7 linked regions of the Homo sapiens genome follow. The protein of the gene in region 2 purifies or fractionates together with the protein of the main gene of each other region. This does not show direct contact. Each region holds a gene or a part of one and is shown on either strand. Other genes may lie near its edges.

Region 1 (4,589 bases), on a different chromosome or scaffold from region 2:
TGCTCTAGCATATACTCAGAGTGGCTGTGGAAACAGCATGGAATGTTGGTGTTGTGCAGACTGCTTTGATCCGGGGGCCTCCCAAAAGGACCCCTGGACCACGCTTTGAGAACCACTTCTCTAAGAGTTGTAAAATAGCTCTAAACACTTGGGGAAATTGATTACTTTTAGGAAGATAAGCTGTGTCTTTGAACAATTTTTAGTGGCTCAACCATGTGCTTGCCCCTTGGGGCAAGTGTGGAATCAATCTGATGCGCTGTCACCGGTAAAGCTGTTCCAGTACACACCTCTCCCTCAAAGTGCCCTACACAGCCCCTTGCTGAATCCTTTGCAGCAGTGAAAATCGGGGGTTGGGGGGAGGCAAGAGTAGGCTGTGCTTGGGGCCATGGAATTATGCAGGTCTCTAAGGGTGTGGACCGAGGAGAACATAAAGGAACAGTGATTTAAACCTGTAATAAACAGATGCCCTTGAGGGGAAGCAGCCCCCACAGTACCCTGCTGGGATGACCTCCCGCAGCGCACCCCACTCACATGGTACCCGGGGAGCTCACACTGCCACACTTGCGGCATGAGGTGGATTTCTTCATGGGGATAAGAACCTGTGCATTGTGGTCCTCACCAGGGCCCAAGTGGTAATCTTTTATTAAGAGCAACAGGAATCCTGGTATGTAGAATTGGGACCGTATCTTAAGTGTTTGAAACCATACTTTCTTTTTTACTGAGACAAGAGGAGTCCATCAAAGGTAGTGGTTTAGGAGACTTTATGTCCAGCCATTAAATAGAGAACAATAAACCTCACTTCTCCTTCACCTCGATAAATGATTTTATGTGACTGTTTCTGGTTCCTGGCATTCATTTGGAGAGTTGAAATTTCCCACCTGAGTTGCCCACCAAGGTCACCAGCCTGTGTTTTGCACTAGGAAGTAGATAGAGGGAAATGGCAGGATTGTTGCAAGCTCACATGGGGAGCTTGGCGGCCCGGCTGTAGCCGGGGGCTGGCCAAAGCATTAGTCCTCAGCAGGTTTTTCAGTAACAAGTTTTGCTTTTTGTCTCCGCGTATCTATAAAAACACAAATACCCAAGAAATGTAAAACAACAATAGGTTGTTTCTGGATTTTTCTCTACATTTTCTTTGTGAGAAACATACTGTGTTGTGGCACCCTTGCTGCTTTTTTTTTTTCTTCTTTGAGAGGGAGTTTTGCTCTTGTTGCCCAGGCTGGAGTACAGTGGCACGATCTCAGCTCACTGCAACCTCCGCTTCCCGGGTTTAAGTGATTCTCCTGCCTCAGCCTCCCAAGTAGCTGGGACTACAGGCACCTGCCACCAAGCCCTGCTAATTTTTGTGTTTTTAGTAGAGATGGGGATTTCACCATGTTGGCCAGGCTGGTCTCAAACTCCTGACCTCAGGTGATCCACCTGCCTCAGCCTCCCGAAGTGCAGGCATGAGCCACCGCACCCGGCCCAGAATAATTTTTGTAATGACGGTATTATTTGGTAAGCAGCAAAACTTTGAATTTGCCGTCTGAAGGATTTAAATGTAATCTATGCAATTGAGTCAGATTCTGCATAGATACTAAAGTAAATGAAAGTTGGGCTTCTTCAGTTCCTTGTGGGCCCAAATCTCTTTCCTGTTTGGTGAGTGCAGCACAGTGTTTCCTGCCGCAAGCTGGTGGAGCTTTGAGTGGGCCATCATGGTACATGAACGGCTGCTGCTGGTGGCTGGAGAACACGTCGCATTTGGGGATGTCATCTGAAGTTTCTAGGCATATTCTCCTAGTGACTGTCGCATTAATGAAAACTGAGCTATCAAGAGTCTTTCATTGGGTAATCTTTCCTTCATTTGTGGTAGTTTAAAGATCTTTTACCTAGTGTCTTCTCAGTTGCTCCTCATCTGCATAATAAACAGATTGATGAGCCAGGAGACCCTTAATAGGCAAAATATAAATAAATGTAAACTTTGGCCTACCCTGTCAGAATTAGCGAAAATAATGAAGTTTAGAATAGTGAGGTTTTATTGTAGCATTATAATTTCTGACTGGCGGGTTAAAATTGTTTTGAATATTGTTTCAGGGGAATGTGAGGTTTGAAGAAACAGAATGTTTGCCACTAGGTGAGGTAAACTATGCATTTTTGTTTTATCTTTTTGCTTAGAAGTCAGAGCTCTTTTCCTGGAGGTGCGATGTTATGAAAATAGAAACTTAATTATGGTTGTATGTCATATTTTAAAGTGTCTTGGAGATTAATTACTCAGAAACTAGTCTCAAGTTTTTGGAACTGAAAATCTTTAGGTGGGAGCTGGGCACTGTGGCTCACGCCAGTGGTGTCCCAGCTACTCAGGTTGAGGCAGAAGGATCGTTTGAACCTATGAGGTAGAGGCTGCAGTGAGCCCTGATCATGCAGCTGTACCACAACCTGGAAGTGGGCACGCTTGAGTTAATGACTTCAAGCAGATTTTAGAGTAGTAAAAGTTGAGCATACAGATTTGCAGTGGTTGCAAACCCATGCATTGTAATAGTTGCAGTTAGGCTTTTTAAAGTAACAGAGCTGACCTTTTGGGAAGATATTTTTATTTGGTTTTTAAGAAATTTCACTTTTGGCTGCTTACTGTTTTGGTGAGTTGGGGAATCTGAGGGAAGATTAACAGGTAGTTACAGAACCCTTGTGGAAGGAAATGTTTAAAGTCTCTTCTGATGTCTGAAGCATAGGTATGTATTACTGCTTTGCACATATCCAGTGTACTCCTAAACTGGTAGAAATGGCATGTTGCCACAGTTCTTTGTGTTTCATGGACTCCTGAGGGGGAAGTCCTTGAAGCCCTTTCTGGGGCTAAGAGGTAAAGATGACTTCTGCATAATAATAGTCTAATAGTACAGGCCTTTTCTGGTGAGTTTGACATTTGCATCGGTGGCACAGGGCAGATTGGAGCCCTCTTCAGCACCGTGCATGGGCACCGAATGTTTAGAATATGCCAATTTTCCCAAATAATGTCCCTGATGATGCAGTAAATATTAATTTTTTTCGGAACCCGCAAACATACATCTTTTTTACTTTCGCTGTGATTAAATGTCAAGTTATATATAAAGCTTCTGCTGCATCCCCACGTGGTACTGTCCACGCACAGCCCTAGGGGATTGAGCTGGGAGCCGAGTGGTCTCGGAAACGCTGTCTGTCCCTGACAGAACAACAGACGGAGGACAGTTTTCAGACTCAGCATGTGGCAGGCGTTTTGTCCAAAACGAGTGATGTCTCAAAGAAAAAACGAACAGTATTTGTTGCTAAGGATAAAATTTGAGCTTTGGGGTGAAAATTGGAATTTTAGAAAACTTGTATCTGCCATTGTAAACCTGATGGCTTTCTAGTAATTAAAGTCTTCTTGGAGATTGGACCCGACATTATCGGCCAGGTGAGGTGACTCACACTTGTAATCCCAGCACTTTGGAAGGCGGAGGTGGGTAGATCACTTGATCCCAGGAGTTTGAGACCAGCTTGGGCAACATAGTAAGACCCTGTCTCTACAAAAAAAAATGCAAAAATTACCTGGGCATGGTGGCATGCACCTGTAGTCCCAGCTACTGGGGAGGGTGAGGTGGGAAGACCGCTTTGAGCCTGGCGGTGGTGTGGGTGGGGGAGGTGCTGAGGCTGCAGTGATCCTTGATTGCACCACTGCACTCCATCCTGGGCAACAGGAAAAAAAATGTTTGTTTTATGCTATCCGATGAGATGTGTGGACATTGAGAATCTGTCTGTTACTTGAACCCGTGTCATCCAGGTGAACAGCATGCACATGGGTCCAGAGTGCAAGGACGTGTTCAGAGTGAACACAGCAGTCAGTTTTCATGAAAGAAAGGGAGAAGTTCCTTGACAAAGGCTGCAAATTCTGTTTCAGCTAACTTTTATGAAACTGCTCCTTGGCGAGAGTTGGTGTAGTATCAGTGAACATCCAGTTATGTGAAGATGGTTACAATACTCCATTCTAAAGACCTATCTGTGTGAGGCAAGATTTTGATGACATGTTTTAGCTGAAACACTCTATGGGAACAGATTGAGGGCAGAAGTAGACATGAACATGGAGCTGTCTTCGGTTATGCCAGAAATTTGCAAAAATGTACAACAGGGCCACTCTTCCTGTTCATTTTTGTTTGTTTTAGAAATAACTTTCATTTAAAGATACTATTAATGTATTAATAGGTTTATTTTTAATACATACTTAGAATTTTGAAAATAGCAATACATTCCACATAAACAAAAGCTCTTTGGTGTTCTCAACTTGTAAAAGTGTCTTGAGACAAAAGGTTTGAGAGCCGCCATTCAAGCATTTGGAAGTCAGTGTGTGTCCTCTGCTTGAATCGCCGCTCATCAGCTGCTTCTAGTCAATAGAAAATGAAGCAGTTTTCAGCTGGGGAAAAAAATGTGCTTAGAAATGTGGAAATATTAAATTTGGTACATTCTGTTTTAACCTGTAGTTTGTTCACTTCCCAGCTTCAAGGATACCCACATTTTTCTTTCTGGGGAAAAGTTGTTACTGATACAATATGGTTGCAGTTTTATGAACACATTCCCCCTGTGATGGGCTGTGTAGTGTGTAGAAT
Region 2 (3,500 bases):
CATTCATGTGCAGATATTTGTGCACATCTCTGATTCTTTTCTTGTGATGAATTCCAAGAAGTAAAATTTCTAAACCAAATAAGCTTTCACTACATGCTGTCAAATAAAGTATGGGTTAGAACACGCCATACCCAGCAGTGAATGAGGATCACTACTCCTTTCCTCATGCAAACACTGCATGTTCCAGTTATTTGCTTCCTGAGGCAGATTATAAGGATGTAGTCACTCAGCTCTGTTTCACGCTCTGCTGTGAACCCTCAAGGATGGAAAGTTAATGACTCTATTCCCCTGGCTTCCCCATATGCCAGTTCTGCAAATGACCTGAATTGTGCCAAGCTGACTCCCCTGTGCAAGGATGTGAAGGTGGAAGGGACACAGGGGCTGTGCTTCGGCTTCTTCTACTGCCAAGCATTGTAGTAGGGACTTGTTTTTTTGCAGTAGCAGAAGCAGAGTCCCAGGATCCATTTCTTACGTTACTATGCGAGATGCAGAAGGTAAGTTTTCATTTTACTGGCATAGATGCCCCAGAGCCAACAGGTGTGGCAGTGGCTTCCCGATATCCCAGTTTCGTGATCATGGCACTGGCTGAAGCATTCTTGGTGGCCCACTTTTAGGGTGGAGCCACATTCTGGGGTTGGGGCATTCCTGGAACATCAGCTTAGACCCTCCTCCTCCAATCCTGGAACAATCTTTTTTTTTTTTTTTTTGGAGACAGAGTCTTGCTCTGTCGCCCAGGTTGGAGTGCAGTGACACGATCTCAGCTCACTGCAAGCTCCACCCCCTGGAACAATCTTATAGTCACCTAATTCCCTGTGTCAAAACCCACTCTGCTTAAGTTGGCTGGAGTGACTTCTGTTATCTGCAGCTGAACTCTGACTAATAGATGCATGTGACACACATACAAAATGTTACCTCCTTTAAATCTTTTACTATTAGTAAGATTGACCATCTTTTTAAGTGTCTATTAGTCATGCGTAATTCTGTCTTGGGGAGCTGTCTCCTAGTCTTCGGAGTTCCTTGTTAAAGGCAGTTCCTTTTAAAAATTGATTCATAAGGAAAACTCTCTTTGAGTTGGGGATACTAATCGTGCAAAAGTATTATTTTGTTTGGTTTGTTTTCCCCTCAGTATGTCACTTGTCTCTTAACCTTCATGATAAATCCATTTTTCACCACGAGGGACTTTGTTCATGGTGTTTTTTTGTTTGTTTTGTTATTTTGTTATTTTTATTTTTAGAGAGAGTGTTTTGCTCTGTTGGCTAGGCTGGAGTGCAGTGGTTGGGTCATGGCTCACTGCAGCTGTTACTGGATAGAGGTCCCGATGCATATCCTAAGAGAAGGTTCTTGGATATCATGCAAGAAAGAATTTCAGGTGAATCCATAAAGCAAGAGCAAGTTTATTAACAAAGTAAGGGAATAAAAGAATGGCCATTCCATAGTCAGAATAGCAGCTTGAGCTGCTTGAATGATAATACTTATAGTTATTTCTTGATTATATGCTAAACAAGTGGTGGATTATTAATGAGTTTTTGAGGTGGGCAATTCCTGGAACTGAGGGTTCCTCCCCCTTTCAGACCATATAGGGTAACTTCTTGATGTTGCCATGGCGTTTATAAATGGTCATGGTGCTGCTGGGAGTGTCTTGTAGCATGCTAATGCATTATAATTAGTATATAATGAGCAATGAGGATGACCAGAGGTCACTCTCATCACCGTCTTGGTTTTGGTGGGTTTGGGCTGTCTTCTTTACTGCATGCTATTTTATCAGCATGGTCTTTGTGAACTGTATCGTGTGCCTATCTCCTGTCTCATCCTGTGACTAAGAATGCGTAACCTCCTGGGAATGCAGCCTAGTAGGTCTCAGCCTTATTTTACCCAGCTCTTATTCAAGATGGAGTCACTCTGGTTCAAATGCTTCTGACATATTTACCCCCTCCCTTTTACAAGGAAACCCTTAAGCCTAAGGGTTGTAGAAGTATGTAGATCCATCTTCTGTAATTTCTTCAGACTGAATAGGGGCGATGATATTCCTGCCTAACTATTAGGGTCTCTTGTATTCAGGGTAGAGTGGAGCTCAGTCAGAAAGTGTCGGTATGGCAAGGACCATTCATAACTCTTGAGTTCCGACAAAAGGTGATATCTGGAAGATTAGTAAGTGTTCAATTTAAGAAAACATTGAGTAAGCTCATCCTACATTTCTATACAAAGAGTACAACAGCAACATATTCCACAACAGTAAAGTAAAATAAGCAAAATTATCCCAAGTAAACTGAATAAGAAGGCTTTCCAGGAACTGGGCAATTGTTGGAACCAAGCTGATATGGGGGTCTCTAGCTGATTCCAATATGTGCCCAAATTAGAATATTGATCCAGATTTTTACATTACCCATCCCTCTTGTTTCTTCTGAGCTGCAGCCAGAGATCACCGATTGGTTCACAGGAATAAGCAGGGTCAGTCTAAATTGCAGAAAAAAACTCAAAAACAACTGATGAGACTAGAATTTAATAACTGGTGTACCACAGTTTTTGAAACCTAATTTTTCTCTCTCCAGTCCTCATTTTAGTATAAAACAAATCATAATTTGACAGATTTGGTTTATTATACCTGGCCTGATTATTTGTATAAAGTGCAGCAAGAATGATTATTTTTCACATAGGCTTTTTAAATTGACTTTGGTGGAACTTTGTTCCATGAAAGGAATCTCAGATAAGACATTTTTAAAGCTGAGGCCAGCCATGGGTTGGTAGCAGATACCTACGAGTTTGGGTAAATTCCTCTCCTTAAGAGGTTTCAAGATAACTTGGGGCTCTTGGGCCTGTCAGAAAGTGACATTCTTTGGTCAGGAACCCTGTACAGTGACTGTGTAGGCAAGATACGAGGCTAGTTTTCCCAAGGGGCTTTTATTGGCTCTATAAGTCAAGTTTGATTCCTTAAGGGAAAGCACATCATTACAGTCAAAGCCTTGGTAAAATAACCGATGTCTCCAATTGCATCCAATTGCAAAATGAAATGGATTCTTATTGTACTTATGCAGATAACTATATTGCCATAAATTAAGAATATGCAGTTTCCAAATTCTGGAGAAATCAGGTAGAGAGAAGCAAATATACTCCAAATTTTGTTCACAGTAGTATACTTTACTCAATTATCAAAAGTTGTAAATAGCTCAAAATAAAAATTTTTTTGGCTCTGTAAAAGATCAGGAAAAAGTCAGAAAGATTGGTTCAGACTTCTGTTAGTTTAGTTCATGCGCTTAATTCCTGTTCTGTCTGATGCTCATGAACATTTCAGCTCTCCATGAAAGTCCTGAAAGATTTTTTCTAACATCACAATGTCCAAAGTTATCAGAAACCTGCATCCAAGAGCATCTGTCAAAGTCCTATAGCTGATTAAGGGTCACCTTTTAAAGAGGATCAAAACAAGGTAACAGTTGCCTGTGGATGACAAAAAGTTTTAGGACAGCCGCTATTATAGCCACAATTGGCTAGAAATTGTGGTTACT
Region 3 (4,589 bases), on a different chromosome or scaffold from region 2:
AAAAATCGGGAAGAATATGCACTGTTCTGTTAATGAACCTCTTTGGTGGGGTGAGTTTTGAAGGGCAATGAAAGATAGTATGGCAGTTATTTTATTTTGGGAGGGGAGCTCTCTCTTTTTCTGAATAAAAAGGGTAAAATATAATGAGTCAAATTAAACAAAATTCTGTATTCCATGGCATATGTAGTCCCAGCTACTCAGGAGGGTGAGGCAGGAGAATGGCATGAACCCGGGCGGTGGAGGTTGCAGTGAGCTGAGATCGTGCCCCACTGCACTCCAGCCTGGGTGACAGAGGTTGACTCTGTCTCAAAAAAAAAAAAAAAAAAAAAAAAAACACGGGGGGGGGGGATATAAAAATATATATATATATAAATGTAGAGAAGAGTACATATACATCTAAAAATATCATATCTAGATTTCTAAAATTAAGTGAAAGATCATTTTTCAATCATTTTCTAAATAAGGTAGATTATACATTCCCTTTTTAATTTAGAAGAGTTGTAAAATTATAATTTATTTTCCATTAATAAATTTGAAAATATTAATAAAATGAATGATTTTAGAATGTTATATATTACAAAACAGATAAAGAAAATATAAAACCTTATTAAATCAATAATCATAAAAGAAAACTACAGCTCTTAAACAACTGATTCAAAAACAGGATCTGGGCTCAATTTTTTTTTTTTTTTTTTTTTGACAGACTCTCGCTCTGTTGCCCAGGCTGGAGTGCAGTGGTACGATCTTGGCTCACTACAACCTCGCCTCCCGGGTTCAAGTGATTCTCCTGCCTCAGCCTCCCGAGCAGCTGGGACTACAGGCGTGTGCCACCACACCCAGCTAATTTTTCTATTTTTAGTAGAGACAGGGTTTCACCGTATGGCCAGGCTGATCTCAAACTCCTGACCTCGTGACCTGCCCGCCTCGGCGTCCCAAAGTGCTGAGATTACAGGTGTGAGCCACCGTGCCTGGCCTCTGGGCTTAATTTTAATGAGGAAACGTTTCAAACTTGTAACATGAAGAAAATTCCATTCCCAAAGGCATAGAAAACAATGAAAACCAATTTTATAATCCTAACTTGAAACTGACACAAAACATAAAAACCACAAAAGTAGAAGCCATAGGAAAATGTAAATATAAACGAACAAATCCTTCTAGCAGGAAATACTCAAGAACATATTAAAAGATAACTGCCTGGCTGGGTGCGGTGGCTCACGCCTATAATCCCAATACTTCGGGAGGCTGAGGTGGGTGGAAAATAAGGTCAGGAGTTTGAGGCCAGCCTGGCCAACATGGCAAAGCCCTGTTTCTACTAAAAATACAAAAATTAGCTGGGTATGGTGGCACGCGGCTGTAATCCCAGCTACTAGGGAGGCTGAGGCAGGAGAATTACTTGAACCCGGGAGGCGGAGGCTGCCGTGAGCTGAGATCACACCACTGCACTACAGCCTGGGTAACAAGAGTGAAACTCCATCTCAGAAAAAAAAAGGCCTACCACTAAGTAGAATTTTTTTCCAGAAAAGTAAAATTTTTTTTTTTTTGAGACAGAGTCTGGCTCTGTCGCCTAGGCTGGAGTGCAGTGGAGCAATCTCGGCTCACTGCAAGCTCCACCTCCCCAGTTCACGCCATTCTCCTGCCTCAGCCTCCTGAGTAGCTGGGACTACAGGCGCCCGCCACTGCGCCCGGCTAATTTTTTGTATTTTTAGTGGAGACGGGGTTTCACCATGTTAGCCAGGCTGGTCTCGAGCTCCTGACCTCGTGATCCGCCCGCCCCGGCCTCCCAAAGTGCTGGAATTACAGGCGTGAGCCACTGTGCCGGGCCCAGAAAAGTAAAATTTTAAAAAATCTTTTTATTTTAAAGTAATTATAGAAAAGAAAAATTGAAAAACTAGTTCAGAGTCGTCCCTTGTGCCCATCACCCAACTTCCCAAACTCCAACAGTCACATCTTATATAATTATGGTACATTATCGAAACCAAGAAACCGACACAGGCACAATCTAATTAACTAAACTACAGACCTTGCTCAGATGTCACCAGTTTGTACATGTACTCATTTTTTGGTATGTCTTTATGCATAGTTCTATGATGTTCTACCATATATAGATTTGCAAAACTACCACCACAATCAAGATAAAGGACTGTTCTGTCACCACAGTGACACTCCCCTGTGCTCCTCCTTTACAGTCACAACCCCCGCCTTTCATTTTTTTATAGTAATTATGTATCATATATTTAAAATATTCTCCCTGTTGAGAAGCATAGAATATGACTTTTAGATCCAAGAACTTACCTACTTGTCTCTTGTTATCATTTCTGAGTTGCTCATTTTCTGGCCTTGAAACTTTGTGTACTTCAGCTACAGAAGAAGACATGCAAAGTGCCAAATCAACTCAGGGTACATCATCAAAAACTTCCATAGTTAGAAATGCAAACAAACAAACCAAAAAACCCAAAACAAAGCCTGTGCAATGCCCAAAAAACTATACCCACACCACCACCACTTTGAGTCAAATTTGAAAGACCAAACATTCTATCATATTCAGTTTAATTTTCTGGGATCATTCACATGAAGTAAATCCTTCTAATGAAAATAAAGTGAGTGGAAAACATTGATCAGTCAATTAAGGAACAGTAAACAGCTAAAGTTCTACCTCGCCTGTGCTCCTGATTCTCTCCTGCCTTTTGGCTGGCAGATGGCAAAGGCCTGGTTGATACAGGACTCCTTCTCCCAACAGCTGCTGGAGCAGGTAAGTGGGCTGAGGCGGTCTGCACTGCTTGTTCCATGGTTGGGCTTTTTCTCAAAGGGTCTAACTGAGGGCTTGAGCGACCTAAAATGTAACCAAAAGATAACAAACTACCCTATTGGGGATTTCAAAATAATCTAGACCCTAAAAAAAATTGTCCAGAGTTTTATTTCTATCAATTCAAACCCTTAGCACAAATTTGAATTAATCCACTTATCAGACCAGATATTAAGAATGGTATCCTTAGTGGGCTTGTCATTAGGTTAAAAATAAAAAATAATAATAATTTAAAAAAAAACTTCAACAGCTTCAAAACAACTCCCTCCCCCTCACAATTTTATCTGTTATTTCTACTTAGTGGAAGAGTTTACATCAAAAAAAAAAAAAAAAATTGCTGCCAGGTACGAGATTCCCTAGAATTATCCTACAAATTATCATGTTGTAGTCAGGTCAAACACAGGCTTTCGCCAATGACAACCATAAGACTATGGTGACTTGTTTTAATCTTTCTTAGTACTTTCTGTAGATGACTAAAACAATACCTTTACATCTATCTACAGGTATTAACTCCATTAAATTTCTATTATAAGAAAGTAAAGGGCCGGGCGCAGTGGCATATGCCTGTAATCCTAGTCCTTTGGGAGGCTGAAGCAGGAGGATCGCTTGAGCCCAGGATTTCAAGACCAGCCTAGGCAACATGGCGAAACCCTGTCTCTACTGAAAATACAAAAATTAGCCAGGCGTGGTGGCGCGTGCCTGTGTTCCCAGCTACTCAGGAGGCTGAGATGGGATAGCTTGAACCCGGGAGGCAGAAGCTGCAGTGAGCCGAGATTGTGCCACTGCACTCTAGCCTAGGTGACAGAGCAAGGCCCTGTCTCATAAATAAATAAATAAATAAATAAATAAATAAATAAAGTAAAAGAACTACAAAGTTAGATAGGTGAAGTTCTTTAATGCTTTAGGGGCTTGGGTAATTAAACATAAAAACTAAAAGGCCAGCAAAAAAACAAACAAACAAAACCAAAAAACAAACAAAAAAAACCCTTCAGATAATTACACAGTAGCCATACTCATTCCTTGCCTTTTAAAAGATCTCTTGGCAAGTTTTTGCTTAATATGGGGTTTGGCTGGGCGCGGTTGCTCACACCTATAATCCCAGCAATTTGGGAGGCTGAGATGGGCAGATCGCTTGAGCTCAGGAGTTCGAGACCAGCCTGAACAACATGGCGAAAGCCTGTCTCTACAAAAAAAATACAAAAATTAGCCAGGTGTGGTGGCACATGCCTGTAACCCCAGCTACTCAGGGGGCTGAAGTGGGTGGATTGCTTGAGCCTGGGAGGCAGAGGTTGTAGTGAGCCGAGATCGGTCCACTGCATCCAGCCTGGGTGACAAAACTAGACTCTGTCTCAAAAAATACAAATATAAAAGAGCCAAAACAAAAAATGGGGTTTGTACTTATACATTATATTTTTCCTTTTATGAGGTCGCCTGGTCACAGCATGAACTGAAGAATGTAACATCGGGTGCTCCCATCATGCTTTCTGTCCTGATAATGTTTGCTGTACATCTCTGCTTAGGCACTCACATCTCATAATTATTCCAAAATATAATGTTTTGCTTAAAAAAAATGCTCATTTCACGTAAAAAAATCCCCCAAATATGCTGCAAATGTTACTGTCCATCTGTGCATATTTGCAGGTGTCAAACAACTGGTGAGTGCTGACAATGCATTATTATGTACCTAGATGATTCAGGGATAATTTATTAGTAATATTTCCCCAATTTATGATTATCTAAAGTATGCACTTACAAATGTGCAATACCATTTCAGCCATTAATGGCA
Region 4 (4,589 bases), on a different chromosome or scaffold from region 2:
GATCCAGTATAATATTCTATGGTCTGAGTTATTCTCCTGCAAATGCTATTTTATTTTATGGAATTAATGAGAAAATCATGATTTTCCAGATTCTCACTTACAGGCTTATTGTGAAAAAGTATGGCTTTGTATCTCAAATTTACAATCTAGATGTGAAGACAATATCTCATAAATGTGTAAGAGGACTCAGTGTTTGGCAAAATGTTCAATCAGTGTTCCAAAGGGTGGCTACTCTTTCAGAGGAGAGAGGACTGCTTTATGGAAAAAGTGGGACTCGAAGATGGATCTTTGATAGTTAAAATTCCGAAAGGGAAGGTATTGGGGGTATGATCAAGGATTAAAATGACTAAAGCTGTTTTGGAAAAGAACAAGTACACCTGACAGGTCAGAGTAGATGATTTGTGAAGGAAGTAGTTAGAAGTTTCATGTGAAAGATACGTTGACAGATTGTGAAGGATGTTCAGTATCCAGTAAGGGTTTACATTTGCTACAGTGGCTTGCCAAGATGGTGACATGATAAATGCGTTTTGAAACTTTAGCCTGGTATTAACATGCAGCATGAGGAGAGATTGGAGGCCTAAAGCAGTTTAAACTCAAGGGCCAGCTTTGATCCATTAATAGTGGGTTTAAAAAGGTCTCACAGTTGAGCAAGAGTAAAGGCTTCTACTGATTTAGTAGGAAATTCTGGATGAGTTAAAAATGTTTTCTGTTGTTTTAGGGGGAGAAGTGGAAAGAAAGAATGATTTGAGAACCATTCCAAGGGAAGAATTGATAGGCTTAATATACACTTTGCCATATTGGATTTAAAAGAAAGAGTCAAATTTGAACTTTTGTCCTGGAGTGTCTTAATCCATTTTCTGCTCCTGTAACAATACTACAGACTAGGTAATTTATAAACAATAGAAGTTTATTTGGTTGACAGTTCTGGAGTCTGGGAGGGCCAAGAGCATGGCACAGGCATCTACTAAGGGCCTTTATGTTGTCATAACATGGTAGAAGGGCAGGTGAGTCTCCAAGACAGAGAGAGAATATCCTGCCAAACTCATCCTTTTATCAGGAGCCTGGGATAATGGCATTCACCTTCTCATGTTGTAACTGCCATTTAAGGGCCCCACCTGTTAATAACGTTACAATGGCAATTAAATTTCAACATGAGTTTTGGAGAGGACACTCAAACCATAGGGTGTCTTGGTTATGAATAATTATATATAGGAATAGAGAAGGCAAGTGGAAGGAGGAATGTTTTTAGGAGAACTGGTTATTTTGGAGTCTAGGAAACTGCCTTATTTTCCTCAGAATTCTTGAGACCAACTATATATGATGAGAGTAAAAGAAAGGTCAGGATAAGTGACAACTGAGAAAGGCCTGTTGTCATGGTTGTTGTATTAAGTCTGTTTTCATGCTGCTGATAAAGACATACCCAAGACTGGGAAGAAAAAGAGGTTTAATTGGACTTACAGTTCCACGTGGCTGCGGAGGCCTCAGAATCATGGCAGGAGGTGAAAGGCACTTTTTACATGGCGGCAGCAAGAGAAAATGAGGAGGAAGCAAAAGCGGAAACCCCTGATAAACCCATCAGATCTCGTGAGACTTATTCACTGTCATGAGAATGGCACGGGAAAGACCAGCCCCCATGATTTAGTTACCTCCTCCTGGGTCCCTTCCACAACACGTAGGAATTCTGGGAGATAAAATTCAAGTTGACATTTGGATGGAGACATAGTCAAACCATATTAGTTGCCATTTATTGTTGGGTTTAGAAATTGAAACAAGTGTGAAGTTGATGAAGCCATCTCTGACCTCTTCCATCCTTCTATCCTCATTGAATTCTGATACTCCACTCACTAGATAACTCCAATTAATGTCCTCTGAAGGCGGAGTCTGATTGTATTGTAGGTTGTCATTGGTAACACTGAAATGAAGGTCTGTCATTAATTGGCAATCCAGAACTCTTCCTACCTTCAACCCTCTATAGTAGGCAGAGACAATTAACTTCAAAATAACCACGGTATTGACTTGAGAACCCCATTTTTCTGATATTCTTAAAATAATGAGTTCTCTTTTTAATTTGAATTTGAGTGGAAGTAGTCAGTGAATACCTAGAGATGTAGATTTGGGGGTGGTGCTTATTGCGGTGATAATTAAAGGTGAATGGAATTGATGAGGGAGCCGTATATAAAGGAAAAATTCCTGAAGACCAAAGACTTCTACTCTAGTAAGCCTACATGTAGAGGAAGGGATTTACCAAAGAGATAAAAGAATCAGGAAGGCCAAAGAGGAAAAGAGAAGAATGTTTCAGGAAGATGATGGTCGCTTGTGTGAACTAGTACAAGAAAAGTCAGGAAAAGTGAGGACCAAGGAGGGGCTATTGGCAAGATTGCCCAGCGTTTCTCTTGAGGGCTTCTGACAGGATGGATGGGAGTGGCCCACCAGCCAGACCCAGTGCCCTCAGAGATGTTTGGAAGAAGGAACATCTTTTGCTAAATTGCTTGATGATGCTATCATATATGAATTAGCCGTGGCTGCAGCCATTGGGTTAGGTTGGGTGAAATCAAAGGCTGTTTGTAGGGTCAAGGCACAAAAGTTGGAGAGGAAGTAGAGGGCAGCAGGTCCACACTGCTTCCTTGGGAAGTTTGGCAGAGAGAGACTAGGCAATAACTAGAGGGACCAATGGAGTCAAGTGGGAAAGCTCTTTTGATGAAGAGAAGCCTGTCCCTCTTTGTAGAAGAGGAGAGGGAGAGCCTGACCAGGTTTAAGGTGAAGTGGGTAATAATTGTGAGCAGGTTTCCTGAAGTAGTAGTAAATGAAATTGAAGGCATGAGTGGAGCCTTGAAAAAGGTTATTTAACATCTATATAGAGATGTCTGGAAGGGTAACATGTGACCACTGACATTCACATATCACCATGCTTTCGGCTTGTGTTTGCTCAATCATAAGCAAATACTTGTGAATTTAATGAAACATTGAATCCTAAAATTTGTAGGAATCATTCATTATCTGAGCATATCTGATGTAGTAGACCTTTTGTGCTTTTGTTTTTAGTCCATTAACAGCCATTGGTTTAGCATGGGTAAATTTGTTTTGTTTTTGAGGTGGAATCTCGTTCTGTTGCTCAGGCTGGAGTGCAGTGGGGCGATTTCACCTCACTGCAGCTTCTGCCTCCTGGGTTCAAGCGATTCTCCTGCCTCAGCCTCCTGAGTAGCTGGGACTACAGGTGTGCGCCACCAAGCCCAGCTAATTTTTGTATGTTTAGTAGAGACAGGGTCTTACCATATTGGCCTGGCTGGTCTTGAACTCCTGATCTCAGGTGATCCACCCGCCTTGGCCTCCCAGGGGATTACAGGCGTGAGCCACCATGCCTGGCCTAGCATGGGTTTAGAGCAAAAGGAAATAGGTAGTTTTTACTCCATCTAATAATGTGATAAAGTGAGTTTTAAAACCTTATAGCTTCATAATCCATTTCAGAGGGAAGTCTGGGTAATGAGAAAATGGTAAATGAAAAAAAAAAAGAAAAAAAATGAAAGAGCCTAAAAGAGGTTACCTAAAATCTTCTTGGTAAAGTTAAAAAGAGGGGAGGGATGTTATCTCTGGGACTGTTACTTAAGGGAGTACAGTATGGTTTGAGAAGAAGGAAGAAGTTTGAAGCAGTTTTGGGGACAGGAACATTCTAAGGAAATGACAGAAAAATATCTTTCATATTGAGAATAAACTTTTGCTTTACTCTTTCAGTATATTCCTTGTGCCTGTTGTGAGCATTACCAGGTTCAGTGCTTCAAGGTGAAGCACTTCGATTTTTGCCTGGGACAGAGGCTGTATTAGGATTATTTAATTGTAAGTAATGTAAACCAGGACAGTTTATCATTAAGATGTAGTGGTGCCTCCTGGATGACAATGGCAGGAAAGCAATCTTGAAATGGGCCTCAGGAGTGGATTAGAACTGAGAATTAGGAGGCTCTCTTCTCTGTCCAGATGGCACAATGTGGCCATTCCTCAGCTCCCTTCCTAGTTTACATATTCATGTAGCCTTTAGTTTCAGTCCTGATTCCAGATTCCCAGAAAGAGAATCTGGTTATCTCTGCTTCAGTCAGAAGTCCACTCTTAAACATTGAGTCGTGGTAGTGGGGTCAGGCTTGCACAGTGTAAATGTGACTGCTGGGATCTCATCTCTTTAGGTGATAGGTGACAAGTGGTTTTGAGCTAAGAAGGTATTCCATGTAAGTGTCCATTACTAAGAGACTTAGCTGGACTGTAAATGTGCTTTGTTCATAACAGAGTTGCCTCGCATGGGCTTAGGGTTTAATGAAATACTAACATAAAATGAAGTAATGCTTGAAAGAGGTACAAGCAGTTCCTTGTGGGAGTTTAGCAGAAAAAACAGTTAATTTTGATAAATTGTTGACATTTTGATAAAATTAACTGAAGGTGGAATGGAGCAGGGCCTCAAATGCATCCTTTATTACATCCTCTGTATTATTTTTACCTAATCCTGTCTGTTATGCTGTTTCATACTCACACACTCAAGAGTTATGAGTTTTTAACAAACAATTAATTCAAGCTTTACTGGATTGAGCCCATAATTGAATGAAAAG
Region 5 (4,589 bases), on a different chromosome or scaffold from region 2:
AAAGGTTTTTTAAAAAATTATGCTGTACTAAATAACTGGCCTCTGGGTAGTAGAATTCAAGGTAATTTTTGTACTCTACTTTTTTTGAAATTTCCACATTTTCTACAATGAGATTTATAGGGTGGAAAATGTGTTGGTATATATATAAGTGGAGTCTTAAGGAATCATAAAAACTGTTGAAATTTTTCCTTATCCCTCACCTGCTTGTGTACAGCATTGAGCTTTTTGTTTAGATGTGCATTGTTTTGCAAATGGTTCTTGTTTTCAGTGGTATCTTTTAGTACTGCATATGGCATCTTTCTAGAAATATGTGTCAAATATTTAAAAATTCTTTTACAGCTTATATACTTTTGATATGCGTGCACTGGACACTCCTGTAATGGTCCATATGGATCATGTATCTGCAGTGCTTGATGTGGATTACTCTCCCACTGGGAAGGAGTTTGTGTCTGCTAGTTTCGATAAATCTATTCGAATCTTTCCTGTAGACAAAAGTCGAAGCAGGTATGTGCCTACCAGTAAGCCATTTATATTCATATGTCACTTAACAATGGGGATGCATTCTGAGAAATGAGTCATTGGGCGATTTCATCATTGTGTGAACATCATCAGAGTGCACTTAAACAAAACTAGATGGTATAACGTGTTGCACACCTAGGCTGTGTGGTCATATGATATGGCCTGTTGCTTCTAGACTACGAATCTGTTCAGCATGTTACTGTGCTGAATACTGTGGGCAATTGTAACACAGTGGTATTTGTTTATGTAAACATATATAAACACAGGAAAAGTACAGTAAAAATCCAGTATTATCTTAATGGACCACTGTCGTATATGCAGTCTCTCATTGACCAAAATGTCATATGACTATTTTTGTTTCATTTTTCTTTGTCCTGATTATTATTTATCTTTTCTGAGAGGGTACCTGAGTTTAATAAAGTTTTTTGCTCCAATACAGTTTAAGAAAAATTAGTAATAATACTTTACATTTGTTATTTTTTACTTAGTCAAATCCAACTCTGTATGCCAAACCAAAAATTAAAAAAGAAATAAAAGTAAGTTTAAATTGTCAAGACCGTTCTCCCTCTATTTCACTTTAGTAGGTATATGGCTTGGTTGATGAGAGGTTGAGAGGTGGGAGATTTGAATACTCAGCTGTCCCATAGTCTCGTGTGTGTCTCATTTTGTAAGCACATAGAGTGTGATTCTAATATTTAAGATTTTTATTGTGTTTTGTATAGTTTGGCCCTTTACTACATATTATATGTTATTAAATACAGTATCTATTTATACATCTATTATATCTTATTTTTGTAAAGAGGTAGTTTACAGAAAGTGATGGCATTTTAAGGAGTTTGCAAGGGGAATTTTGTTCTCGAGTTTTCACTTTACAGACTGACTTTAAAAACTAAGTCCTGTATAGATACAGCCCCCTGTATAGTGAATTATGGTTTACAAAGAGCTGTTATACACATTCCCATTGTTCCTTAGTAATGCTTTAGATGTGTTCCTGGAAGCATCCATAAAATAAATCCAAATAAATGGAAATAATTTTTCTCAAAAAATTATGATAATTGGATGATCATGGTCATAGTCAATCTGCTTATCTAACTCTTTGCTCTTTTACTTGTGATATTTAAGTCTTTTTCCACTGTAATTTGAGGAAGCCATATGGATTTCTACACCATGTATCGTCATTGTCAGCAGATAATTATCTTCATCACTGTTTATCTGATTATGAAGGTGCTTCAGTTAGAAGCATACTGACAGGAGTGTTCTGATGACTTTGATCTTCATTTCATCATTTCTGTTGTAGAGCTTCTGCTGTGTGTTCCTATGTGACTATTGCTTCCTTTGTTGCTGCCTTGATATTCTCCAAATTGTCATGAGTGTTTTTTTGGCATTATTCACTTAGGCCCAAGGCAAGACTAATAGCTTCCATATTTCTCTCACCTCTGGAAAATGTTGAGAATCAAGAGAATATGGTCCTCCATCATTTCTTGGCACCACAACTTCCAAAGGTAGTAGGATAGTATTTTTCCAACATGGTACATAAGTAGACAAAAGAATGAAACGAGAACAAAGAAAAAAACAGGACTGTGTAGTTACCTATGATCCCAAGGGGCCAGCAGCTGAGTTCAGGCTGAATTATTCCAAAGCTAGTGTGGACAGCTAAATGTAGGTCTAGCTAGAAAACTCACATTATTCCAAAATTGTATAAAAGGGTTCTTATATTTCATTTCTAAGAAATTGTCTCCTGATGTCATTTGGAGGTTTTGTAATCACAGTCTTAATATGTGTTAACGTCCTGTTGTGTTTAGATATAAATGGTGTTCCCTCTGACCTTTGCCTTTATCTGCTTGAAAGCTAGTTCTAATTTGTTTCTGTGGTTTGTTTCCTATCATTATAAACATCAAATAACTCATGCTTGGGTGAATAATCTGTATTTAAAAAATATTTTCCTTTAAAAGACCTTAAAATGGCTAAAGCATATTATTTTTAAAATAAATTTTGAGTAAATTTTTTAAAACTACAGTTAAGTCAGTATTTGAAAGTAGGCTTCTGTTGGAAGTTCATTCAGTATTTACTGAGCAAACAAGTAAATTAATAGTGTTCACATGGAAAAATTAGTGTGACTGTGTATATAAAGAATTTAAGCCTTTAAAAATGTATTTATCTCCTAATAGTAGAACTTTTGGTGAGCTTAATAAACTTAGCATATATGCAGACATAAACATATCTAGAAGTTAAGAACTCAGCATAGTTTACCATTGGGGAGGATTCTCAGTTACTTAAGTGACTAACCGTTGGATCTGACTGGTCTACTGCATGAACAGATTATGTTTAATGGTTACGGAAACCTGATTGAATTTCCCTACTTCAAATGCATTATACTGCTTTGGAAAAAAGGGCTTCTTAGGTATGTGGAGATTATAAGAAATGAGTCTTCAAAAGCAGAGCACTGAGCGGGAGAAGAAAAAGCAGTCTATCTCATCTAGTTTTCATTTTAATAGGACGTTCTTTTTAATCATCCCCTCTCTTTTAAAAATGAATTTCTAATGGTTTATCAAAGTGCTTAAAACATACCTATCAGAAACAGTGTAAAAGACCAGTTTTGTGAGTATAGTCGAGAGATTTTTTTTTTTTTTTTTGAGACAGAGTCTGGCTCTGTCAGCCAGGCTAGAGTGCAGTGATGCCACACGGCTCACTACAGCCCCTGTCTTCTGGGCTCTAGTGATCCTCCTACCTCAGACTCCTGAGCAGCACCACACCTAGCTAATTTTTAAAATTTATCTTTAGTAGCTATGGGGTCTCCCTGTGTTACTCAGGCTGGTCTCAAACTCCTGGGCTCAAGTAATCCTCTCACCAAAGTACTGGGATTATAGGCATGAGCCACTGCACCTTGCCTACTTTAGAGATATTTTTTATAGATATGAATATTTGATTTAGTCATTCTGTTTGAGTTTTATTTTACTGTGCATAGTTTATTGAGCCTGTTTCCTTCCTCTTTATATACTCTGCATTTTGAATAATTTAATCCAGATGCAGAAAATTTATTTCTCCAGAAGTTTCATCTTACTTTTTCTGACCTTGTATTTTACTTGCTTTTTAATGCCTTTCTTAACACTTACTAATATAGTATCACCTGTGAATTCTTCTAGCATATTTCACAGCCTTTCCAAATAGGTATGATATTTGACATCTCCATTTATTAAATGATTCTTTTTTTTCTTTTTTTGAGATGGAGTCTTGCTCTGTTGCCCAGGCTGGAGTGCAGTAGCACGATCTCGGCTCACTGCAAGCTCCGCCTCCTGGGTTCACGCCATTCTGCCTCAGCCTCCCAAGTAGCTGGGACTACAGGCGCCTGCCACCATGCCTGGCTAATTTTTTGCATTTTTAGTAGAGATGGGGTTTCACCTGGTCTCGATCTCCTGACCTCGTGATCCACCTACTGCAGCCTCCCAAAGTGCTGGGATTACAGGTGTGAGCCACCGCACCTGGCTCTATTAAATTATTCTTACCTCAACTTATCAGACACTTCTGTAGTCCTCCCTTCCTTTTCACACATGTAAATCATCAACTCACTTTAATTAAGCTTTTTTTTTTTTTTTTTTTTTTTGAGGCAGAGTCTCACTCTGTCACCCACGCTGGAGTACAGTGGCACAATCTTGGCTCACTACAATCTCTGCCTCCCAGGTTCAAGTGATTCTCCTGCCTCAGCCTCCCTAGTAACTGGGATTACAGGTGTGTGCCACCACGCCCAACTAACTTTTGTAATTTTAGTAGAGACAAGGTTTCACCATGTTGGGCAGGCTGGTCTAATTAATTAAGCTTTTTAAACAATTTAACCAAAACAAAATTCTGGCATTAGATTCAGCATATCAGGAGGTACTCTTTGAAGACCATTGCATTTCTTTCTTTTTCAGTAAAATGAAGGGGAAAAAAAGTGTGTTGACCTGAATTGATTTGATATGGGGAAGAGGCCTTTTAAGATCAAGTCCTTTCTTTTTGTTACAAAGTTACCTTGGTTGAACATCATATTTTATTTGCATTTTATGCTTTTAGTTATTCTGTGAACTTTTCTGTAC
Region 6 (4,589 bases), on a different chromosome or scaffold from region 2:
GTCTGGCCACCACTTTTCTCTCTCTCTAGGGCCCTCTCTGTCTAGCTTGCTCGCCATGTGATGCCTTCCACCATGGGGAAACCTCATGGGATGCCTGTGCCATGTTCTTAGGCTTCCCGGCTTCCAGAACCCTGAGCCAAATATTTTTATAAATTACCCTGTTAGAGCAGCAAAAAATGGACTAACACACATATGCTATCATATAAAGAGCACTCTCACACTATCAAAATTACATCTTCGTAATACTTTATGCCAGCAAGTACATTTTCTGGAATTTACATTATGTACTTGTACAGCAATGTGCAAATTTTGCACCCATGCGAAACTGATATATTTACAGGGTTACATATTACAACACAGTTTATAGAAAGAAAAGAATGTGAAAAAAACCCAAATATCCACCAATATGGGGTACACTAAATAAATTACTGAAGATATATAAAGGAGAATATTGTATAGCCATTAAAAACAAGTAAGAGGAAAAAAGGAGGCCCCTATGTTCCGCAATGGAAAAATCTCCAAGTTACACTGTTAAATGAAAAAAAGAAAGTTCCTTGTGTACATGCTACTTTTGTGCAATAAAGGGAGAATTAAAATATTATGCATTTGTATCTGCCTGAATATGCTTTTACAGACATTCTGAAAAGATTTTAAAAACCCGTAACTGAGTACACTTTTGGAGACGGGGTTGGGAATTGGGGATTGGGTTGGGGGTAAGGTAAAGGGACTTCACTGTTTCTCTTCCTAAAAAAACAAAATTTGAACCATGTGATCATTTTGCCTAATTAAAAAAACAAGATTTTTAAAGTAAAGCAACTTCCTTCAGATAAAATACTAATTCTGCACTTTAGATTGGGTAAAGAATCAAGTTTCTTCACTTAGGTCTACAAATACAGAAGGCAAAAGTGTGTTGTGTATGTATGTACAGCAGAGTTGATTTTCTCCGGGACTACGGCTCAACAATGTTAATCACCAATGCTAGGCATACAGTGCCTACTAGAAGTATTTAATGCAATGATTTAAAAATTAGTTGAATATACTGTCTATATACAAATATTGGTATTTTGTTCTACTATGGCTTTAGGCATAAATCTTAATTACACTTTGACAAAAAAAAAGACTATTCAAACACTAACAACCGTCATCTCTCATTTTAATATAGTCTCTCAAGTGATAAAAGCTGGTTTCCTGTTCATCCACCACTTGTAAGTGTGGTATGACCCTATACCTTATTTGCTAGGTATTTTCCTAAATCCTACCCTCTCTCTGTAGTAACTTTTTCTTTCCTGATGACTTGACTTGCCGGAGAATACAACCATTGCTCCTTTCCCTGCTTGTTTCACATTTATGCACAAGAAAGCAGTATTTGCATGGGGGGTTGGGGATGCATATATGTATTTATACAGATGAGTAATACTAAGCAACTCACTCACAAGGATTACGTAGTGGACAGCTTGGAGGCCAAGGAGAAAGCTAACATCCACAATACCAGAACCAATACACTGGGGCAGACCCTCCTAGCCATTATGCCCATAACCCTGTTCAATCTCACAAAGGTGGCTTTCAACTTTGTACCCCAAGCTAAAGAGTGACTGGTGGTAAGAAGTACACACACAAAAAAATGTTCCATTATAGTTAAAAGGCCTACTTACCCCTCCCAGTAATCTCTGCCCTATTTTATTTATTTATTTATTTTTAGACAGAGTCTTGCTCTTGTTGCCCAGGCTGGAGTGCAATGACACGATCTTGGCTCACTGCAACCTCCGCCTCCCGGGTTCATGCGATTCTCCTGCCTCAGCCTCCCGAGTAGCTGGGACTACAGGTGCGTGCCACAACGCCCGGCTCCTTTTTTTGTAGTATTTTAGTAGAGACGGAGTTTCATCTTGTTAGCCAGGATGGTCTAGATCTTCTGACCTTGTGATCCGCCTGCCCTGGCCTCCCAAAGTGCTGGGATTACAGGCGTGAGCCACTGTGCCCGGCCTCTGCCCTACCGTCTTTACCCAGAGGATCTACTGATTTTATAAAGATTACCTTCCTAAGCATTCTCCTTCTTAAACTGTCCATAAATTTAATCAAGGTAGTTCTTAGCAACAGTCCCTTTAGCAGACAGAGATACTGAAATCTATTCTCTATTTGAAATATATGTAACTTTATAAAATTTTAAAAATCCATAGAAATATTTCAAGAGTGATTATAGAAATGGATGAAAAACAGCACAATTAGAAACTATGCCACTATTCAGAAATGTGATTTCTACATTTTAAACCTTCCAAGATAAACAGCCTGATCCACTCTGCCATTTATAATTTTAATTCCTTTATTCATCTTCCCTTCCATAACTTTTTAAATGTATATCCCACTTTAGATAACCAATGAATAAAAAAATGAAAAAAATATATTTGATACGATTAGTTCTGACACTTAGTAAACTACGTCAGTAAATTTTTCTGAGGTATTCCATGTACAATGTTAAATAACAGAAGGGTAAAACGCAAGGATCCCCTTCATCCCTGTGACAACATATTTATTCTCACAGTTACCTCCTTAGGGTTTCTAATATGCCAAACCATCATTACAGGATATCATTAGCTACCATCTAAATTCCTATCACCACCTACTCCCTTTACCCCCTTTTATTCTTAATTCCCCTCTTGTGACATTTATATATAATCTTAAATCATTTTTGAAACTTCAACCTTAGATAATATCTCCATGGATTCCATGTTACCTGAAGTGAAGACAACTGTTTCAAAAGGAGGAAGTGACTGAGATTGAGCTTTGTATGCAATATTATGTACAAAAAGCACTGCCTGAGCACTCTGGAGAGACTGCTGTATAATTTTGCCAAGGAAAATCAGATGCCTTTGGAATTTTCTTTATACTTTCTGTTCTAAAATTTCACAAATAAAGGTATTATCTAGATGTGGCTCTTTTAATCTTCTGTATCCTACATTCTCTCTTTTTACAGTTCTTCTGTCTTGGTCATTCACTATTTTGTGCACTAAGTTTTCCTTAAATGCTTAGGGATACCTGGCATGAGTTTATTAGGAATGATTACATCAGGAGTGTCTTTTCTGGTTCCTACAACAGACTTTCCCCTGCGTCCCGGCTTTTTCATACCTCTTCACTCACCAAGTTTATTAGTTCTCCCTCACAGTTTCTAAGAACTGCTACTTTGGTGATTCAAGGCCCCATCTTTTGACTGGCCTTCAGTGGCTTCGTGTTTCCAATTTGTGTCCTACAAACCCATCCTTCACAATGTCAATACACTCACTCATGTCCAGAAATTTATTTTTTAAATTACTGTCCCAAATACATTAACATAAGGTCTTCAACCAGCTTTTTATCTTAACAATCAGGAAAAAACCTCTCGCTCTCTGAAAATCCTTACCTGACTTACCCAAAACTTCATTTCAAATTAAAATATTTGACATTTACATTTGGTGCCTTATTTTTCCTAAGTATTGTACCATTTCAACTTATAGAAATGCTTGCTCTACTATAAGATACCCTGTTCTTTTTCCAACTGTGTTCATTTCCTGTGGCCACTGTAACAAACTGCAACTGGATGAAATTTATTATGGAGTCAAGAAGTCCAAAATCAGTATCACTGGAACAAAAATCAAAAGTGTTGGCAGGGACACACTTCCTCCAGAGGTTCTATGGGAGAATCTGTTCCCTGCCTCTTCCAGCTTCTGGTGGCTGCCAAGGTTTCTTGGTGTGTGGACACTTCACTCCAAGATCAACATCCTCAAATCTCTGTGTTTGTTTTCACATCACCTTTCCTATGTGCATGGATTCTGTCAGGAGTCTGAACACCTTCCTTCATCGTGTCATGTGTCTTTTTCAGTACCAGTTGGCAGTTTCTGCTGACACAACATTCTCAGAAACTTTGGAGGTCCCCTACACGTCACATCATTAAACATCGTTCTCCATAGATATTTCCTGGATAATCTCATCTATTTCTGGCTTTTACTGAGATAGTACGGGAACCTATGAGTTACATGCATAGTTTCTTCCACACAAACAAAAGGCTGTCTAGCAATACCCCTGGCCTTCTTTCCAGAGACAGTTTTTCTAACAGTGAACACCTTTTGCCATCTGAGTAGCCTGAGATATTCCCAACATCCAGTGCTGGTGGTTCTTTCTATACTTATCAGTTCATTCTTCAATTTAGCTTTTCTTGCCACTTTACTATAAACAGGAAGAAACCAGGCTGCAACTTCAACACTTACTTAGAATTCTCAGCTAAATATGAAAAAGTTTTAAGTTCTGCCTTATATACAACTGTAGGACACAATTCAGCCAAGCTTTCTATCACTTATAGAAAGGATCTCTTTCCCTCCAGTTTATATGTTCCTAATTTGCTTCTGAGCCCTAACCAGAAGCACCTTTAAAATCCATATTTTTGCCAACAGTCTTTAAAGGCAACATATGCATTTTCTATCATGTGACTCAAAACTGGAGCCTCTACCCACTGTCCAATTCCAAAACCACTTCCACATTTTTAGGTAACATATTACCACAAACTAAACAGCTCAAAATAAATTTATTCTGGAGGCCAGGAGTCTGAAATCAGTATCACTGGG
Region 7 (4,589 bases), on a different chromosome or scaffold from region 2:
TCCTAATATGATGGGATTACAGGCGTGAGCAGCTGTGCTCGGCTGCAGATACTTATTGAATGAATAAATACTCTGAATGCAGTTGATATTGTTAAAAACATTGAAATGGAAGACCTCTTTAAGTCTCTTATGCAACACTTTATTATTATATAACCCAAAGTGTGGTATGTGTACCATTGTCATAAGTGAGAAGATTTTTGATGATACTCAAACTTCTAAAATATTAATAGTTATGTACTGTGTCAACATCTTAGAAAACAATGTAATTACCCTATCACTTCTGTGACTTTAGGAATATTGTTTAGAGCAAAACTAACTTTTAAAAAATTCAATTTAATAAAAAAATGATATTCAAAAATCATGAAAATGGTATAATGACTGACAGTTGAGAAATATTGCAATACTAGATAGACTGGGTCTGTAAGATGTTATTTCTAAGCTTGTTGCTTAAAAGTAAATTCTGCTTACCTCATAGTAACTTTCAATGTTGTGTTTTTCAGATCTCATATATAGAACCTGTGACAATGCTTTCATTTTGGCGCTTTTCACTTCTATTGGCTAGTTATTTTTATTAATCCCTGCTTCGTTGTGGTGGTAACATAAAAGCCCATTTCCTGCTTTTCCTTCTAACAAGATGCCTTTTCATTCAGTTAGTCTCAAGTCAAGTTGTATCTTTGTGAAGCCTTTTTATAAATACCTCTCTGCAGGCAAATTTAGATGTCTCTCACTGTATGGTGATTGAGAACATAGATTTATAAATCAGTAAATGGTTACCTTTTATTTATGAATCCATCAAGAGCATGAGATCGTGTTACAAATCTTCTCTCTTTTCCCTTATCCTAGCTCAATTCTTTGTATGTAGTAGATACTCAGTAAATATTTGGTCAGTGAATAACTATTATAAGATTATAGGACCAAGAGAAAATTAGTTCCAATTTCATTCTAAATCTTGAACTTTTAAATTTGCTTTTAATTTTCCAAACTTAGAGCCTGTAAGCAGAAAATAAGCTCCAACTTAAAGATGAGTAAAACACGTAAGATATATCTACACACCAAGTAGATAGAAGCCTGTGATTGCTTTAGAAGTAGGAAATGAGCCCTTTCAGAGTTGTGAGGACTAAAATTTCCATCTTAAGCAAAAACAGTCTTTCAATCTTGGTGTATTGCTAATCATGACAGTTGATTACAAAGTTCAAGACCTGGCAGAAAAAGTATAAATATTATTTCTCTGTCTTTATAGGTGATCTCATCCACATCACAGCTTCTGTTGTCAACTGCGTATGAATGAGTCACTGATCTCCAACCCAGACTTCTCTGAGCTGTACACTCTTATTATTGATACTTTCTTTTAGATGACTGAGTGGCACTTCGTATTCAACATATTCAAAACTGAACTCATGATTTCCCTCCACCAAACAAACTAGTTCATTTCCAGTGTTCCCTTTTCATCTTTCCATCTTCTTAGCTAACTAGCTCTGAAAGCTAAGAAGCTATGACTCATCTTTGACACTTCCAAAACTCCCAGTCCCCGTGTCAAATCTCCAGTCGGTAATTATTGGTTTCACTTCCTGACTGACTCTGAAATCCATGTACATCTCTGCATACATACTGCCACCCAACTTAGTGCTACCTTCATTTCTTGCTTTTTGTACTGTACTACCTTTACTATATTCACATCTGTTCTTTACTTTCCCAAGTCAGTTTTCTACAGTATAGTCAAGGTGATCTCCTCAATATGCAAGTCTGAGGATGACAATATCCAAAAGAAGATGACATCCTCTTTTTTGAAAACAGCAGTGTCTTCCCATTGCTTTTATGAAAAAGTCCAAGCTCTCTATATGGTTTTTTGATAGCTTGGCCTCTACTTAACTCTTCATTTCCATTTGTTACTTGATTCTGTGCTATCTGTGATCTGGACATGATGGTTGGCTTTTTCCTATTGGCAGATTTTTACAGGTACCTTCCTTGCTCTTTCAAACAAATTTCCATCTATTAGTCTAACTTTGACTATTTAACTCCTGTTCATCCTTCAAGTAACAGCTCAGTTATCACTCACTTAGGGACCCCATTAAATCCCCTTAGAAAACATTCTTTCTGGGATATCTTAGTTGTGATTTTAACTTTTCCTATATATTGATTTTATTTGATATCCATGTATTCTTTTCACTCAGCTAGAAGTTTCACTGAGAGCACTGTTTGCTTCTCTTTTACCAACTGTTGTATATTGAGCACTTAGCACGTAGCAGGCACACTGTTAAGTATTGAATGAATGTCTGGATCTACTTGCGTGATGTGAGCATGTGTTAGGATTTCCATTAAATAACTTGGTTAAGTGTATTTTCCTTTACTCTGTTTCATAGAAGTTATGGTTAGGATTTCTATCATAAAAATTGACTAAGCATTTACTGAATATATATTTGTCTTTACTGTGTTTCATAGAAATTATATTTTTACTGGAGTTGATGTCAAGATAATTTGGATTCAGTTTAATTCAGCATATATCTTTTCTTAATTTCTTTCCCCTTTAACATTTTGCAGTGGTTCAACTCATAATGACAAGAGACAGTGATGGTTATGAAAACTCAACAGATGGTGAAATGTGTGACAAAGATGCTCTGGAGGAAGATTCAGAAAGCGTTAGTGAAATAGGAAGTGATGAGGAATCTGAAAATGAAATTACAAGTGTTGGTAGAGCTTCAGGTGATGACGATGGAAGTGAAGATGATGAAGAGGAGGATGAAGATGAAGAGGAGGATGAAGATGAGGATAGTGAGGATGATGATAAAAGTGACAGTGGCCCTGATCTTGCAAGGGGTAAAGGAAATATAGAAACTAGTTCTGAAGATGAAGATGATACGGCAGATTTGTTTCCAGAAGAATCTGGTTTTGAGCATGCTTGGAGAGAATTAGATAAAGATGCTCCTCGTGCTGATGAGGTAACCTTTTGAATAAACAAGATTATTTGTGAAAAACACAGTACAAGCAGCTTTTATGGCTGGTAGAACTGATGTCATTAAGTGGGAAAAGCTTATTGGTAATAGTATTCTTTATGATTCTGATTAAAATTTGATATGGAATATAATTATATGAACTAGAAGACGTCCAAGCAGATAAGAAGAGGCTCTACATAAATAATTAAAAGTTGCATGAAATTTTTAATACTTGTTTTAGCTAGTAGTTTGTATTTCTGTTTGTACGGCACCCAAAAGAAATGTTGCAGGGTAACATACTCAACTTCCTTACTCATGCATGCATGGCAAAATAGCTGAACAAACTTGGTGGTTAAAAAATCAGCTCATGATCATGTTCTGATTTAAGAATTAAGAACCAAGTAAGAGAAAGTACTTACCTGTTATGGTTTTACTATTGTTTGGCTCATTTGAAGTTCTCTTTTATATACTGAATTACGCTTAGATAACTCCTGTACTATTAATTTCAGAGCATAGGGGACAGAAGGCATTACATTTTTAGAATCTTTATTTTTCAAGTATTGAGAATGATATGGATTATGTACTATTTAATTCTTCTCATTTCTCAGATTACACGTCGATTAGCAGTTTGTAACATGGACTGGGATAGATTAAAGGCAAAAGATTTGCTGGCTCTGTTCAATTCATTTAAACCCAAAGGAGGTGTAATATTTTCCGTCAAGGTGAGAATTGATTTCATTTTGAAATAAATATTTCTAGGCATTTTAAGTTAAATCTGATTTTTTTTTTTTTTTTTGGCCATAGTTTTCCTTTTTAGGAAAATACTGTGGAAGTTGTCCAATCCAATTGAGTGTGAAACTTATGTAACAGGTATAAATGTTAGAAAGGAAGAGGTGAAATTATTATTATTGATAGGTTATATGATTGTTTACACATTAAAAATCCAAAGAAATAAAAGCTCAGTAAAGGGACAGCATATAAGAAGTGTTTTTAACAATAAATTGCATTCCTTATTGCTAACACTGGCCAATTAAGGAAAAAATCTAATTATACTAGAAACAAAACCACATAAAGTTCTTGGAAATTACCTTAATAAACACAAATGACCTATGTGAAGTAAACTGTAACACTTGATAAATTTGAAAAACTTACATAAATTTTGAGGATACCATATTTCAAGCCAACCTAATAATTAAGAATCCAGGCTTTGCATTATTGCAGACCTGGGTTCAAATCTTGATTCTCGTAAGTGTTATGTGATCCTGGACACTTAATTAATCTCTCAAGTATGTTTACATCTTTCCAATATATCCAAATGGATATAACAATAGTATTGGTGATTGTAAGGATTAAGTATAAAGGAGCTTGAACTAAGTATTTAGTGCAGTGCCTGAAATAGCCCTGCCCTCAATCATTATTAGAGATTGAGTCTCCCTTATCCAAAATGCTTGGGATCAGAAGTGTTTAGAATTTCAGATTTTGAAATAAAATTGCATTATATATACTTACTGGATGAGCATCGCAATTCCAAAATCTGAAATGCGCCAATGAGCGTTTCCTTTGAACCTCACGTTGACAGTCAAAAAGTTTGGAATTTTGGATTTGGGATTTGGGATGCTCAACCTGTATTATTCTGTTTAAATATTTAAAGATGTTATG

The links.
Region 1: the proteins of IFI27L1 (region 2) and DIDO1 purify together in Homo sapiens (affinity purification with mass spectrometry; one large-scale study listed by BioGRID and IntAct). This does not show direct contact.
Region 3: the proteins of IFI27L1 (region 2) and LSM14A purify together in Homo sapiens (affinity purification with mass spectrometry; one large-scale study listed by BioGRID and IntAct). This does not show direct contact.
Region 4: the proteins of IFI27L1 (region 2) and PAXBP1 purify together in Homo sapiens (affinity purification with mass spectrometry; one large-scale study listed by BioGRID and IntAct). This does not show direct contact.
Region 5: the proteins of IFI27L1 (region 2) and DCAF13 purify together in Homo sapiens (affinity purification with mass spectrometry; one large-scale study listed by BioGRID and IntAct). This does not show direct contact.
Region 6: the proteins of IFI27L1 (region 2) and ARGLU1 purify together in Homo sapiens (affinity purification with mass spectrometry; one large-scale study listed by BioGRID and IntAct). This does not show direct contact.
Region 7: the proteins of IFI27L1 (region 2) and ESF1 purify together in Homo sapiens (affinity purification with mass spectrometry; one large-scale study listed by BioGRID and IntAct). This does not show direct contact.

What each region holds. Positions count from the first base shown.
Region 1 is NC_000020.11:62,916,139-62,920,727, reverse strand, and holds part of DIDO1 (death-inducer obliterator 1), read left to right. Parts: intron 1-4,589. UniProt on the Homo sapiens protein: Putative transcription factor, weakly pro-apoptotic when overexpressed. Tumor suppressor. Required for early embryonic stem cell development.
Region 2 is NC_000014.9:94,087,810-94,091,309, forward strand, and holds part of IFI27L1 (interferon alpha-inducible protein 27-like protein 1 precursor), read left to right. Parts: intron 1-3,500. UniProt on the Homo sapiens protein: Plays a role in the apoptotic process and has a pro-apoptotic activity.
Region 3 is NC_000019.10:34,213,365-34,217,953, reverse strand, and holds part of LSM14A (protein LSM14 homolog A), read right to left. Parts: intron 2,831-4,589; coding exon 2,654-2,830; intron 2,359-2,653; coding exon 2,293-2,358; intron 1-2,292. UniProt on the Homo sapiens protein: Essential for formation of P-bodies, cytoplasmic structures that provide storage sites for translationally inactive mRNAs and protect them from degradation. Acts as a repressor of mRNA translation. May play a role in mitotic spindle assembly.
Region 4 is NC_000021.9:32,764,635-32,769,223, reverse strand, and holds part of PAXBP1 (PAX3- and PAX7-binding protein 1), read left to right. Parts: intron 1-4,589. UniProt on the Homo sapiens protein: Adapter protein linking the transcription factors PAX3 and PAX7 to the histone methylation machinery and involved in myogenesis.
Region 5 is NC_000008.11:103,435,287-103,439,875, forward strand, and holds part of DCAF13 (DDB1- and CUL4-associated factor 13), read left to right. Parts: intron 1-339; coding exon 340-504; intron 505-4,589. UniProt on the Homo sapiens protein: Part of the small subunit (SSU) processome, first precursor of the small eukaryotic ribosomal subunit.
Region 6 is NC_000013.11:106,547,070-106,551,658, forward strand, and holds part of ARGLU1 (arginine and glutamate-rich protein 1), read right to left. Parts: intron 1-4,589. UniProt on the Homo sapiens protein: Dual function regulator of gene expression; regulator of transcription and modulator of alternative splicing. General coactivator of nuclear receptor-induced gene expression, including genes activated by the glucocorticoid receptor NR3C1.
Region 7 is NC_000020.11:13,774,220-13,778,808, reverse strand, and holds part of ESF1 (ESF1 homolog), read left to right. Parts: intron 1-2,538; coding exon 2,539-2,936; intron 2,937-3,538; coding exon 3,539-3,652; intron 3,653-4,589. UniProt on the Homo sapiens protein: May constitute a novel regulatory system for basal transcription. Negatively regulates ABT1.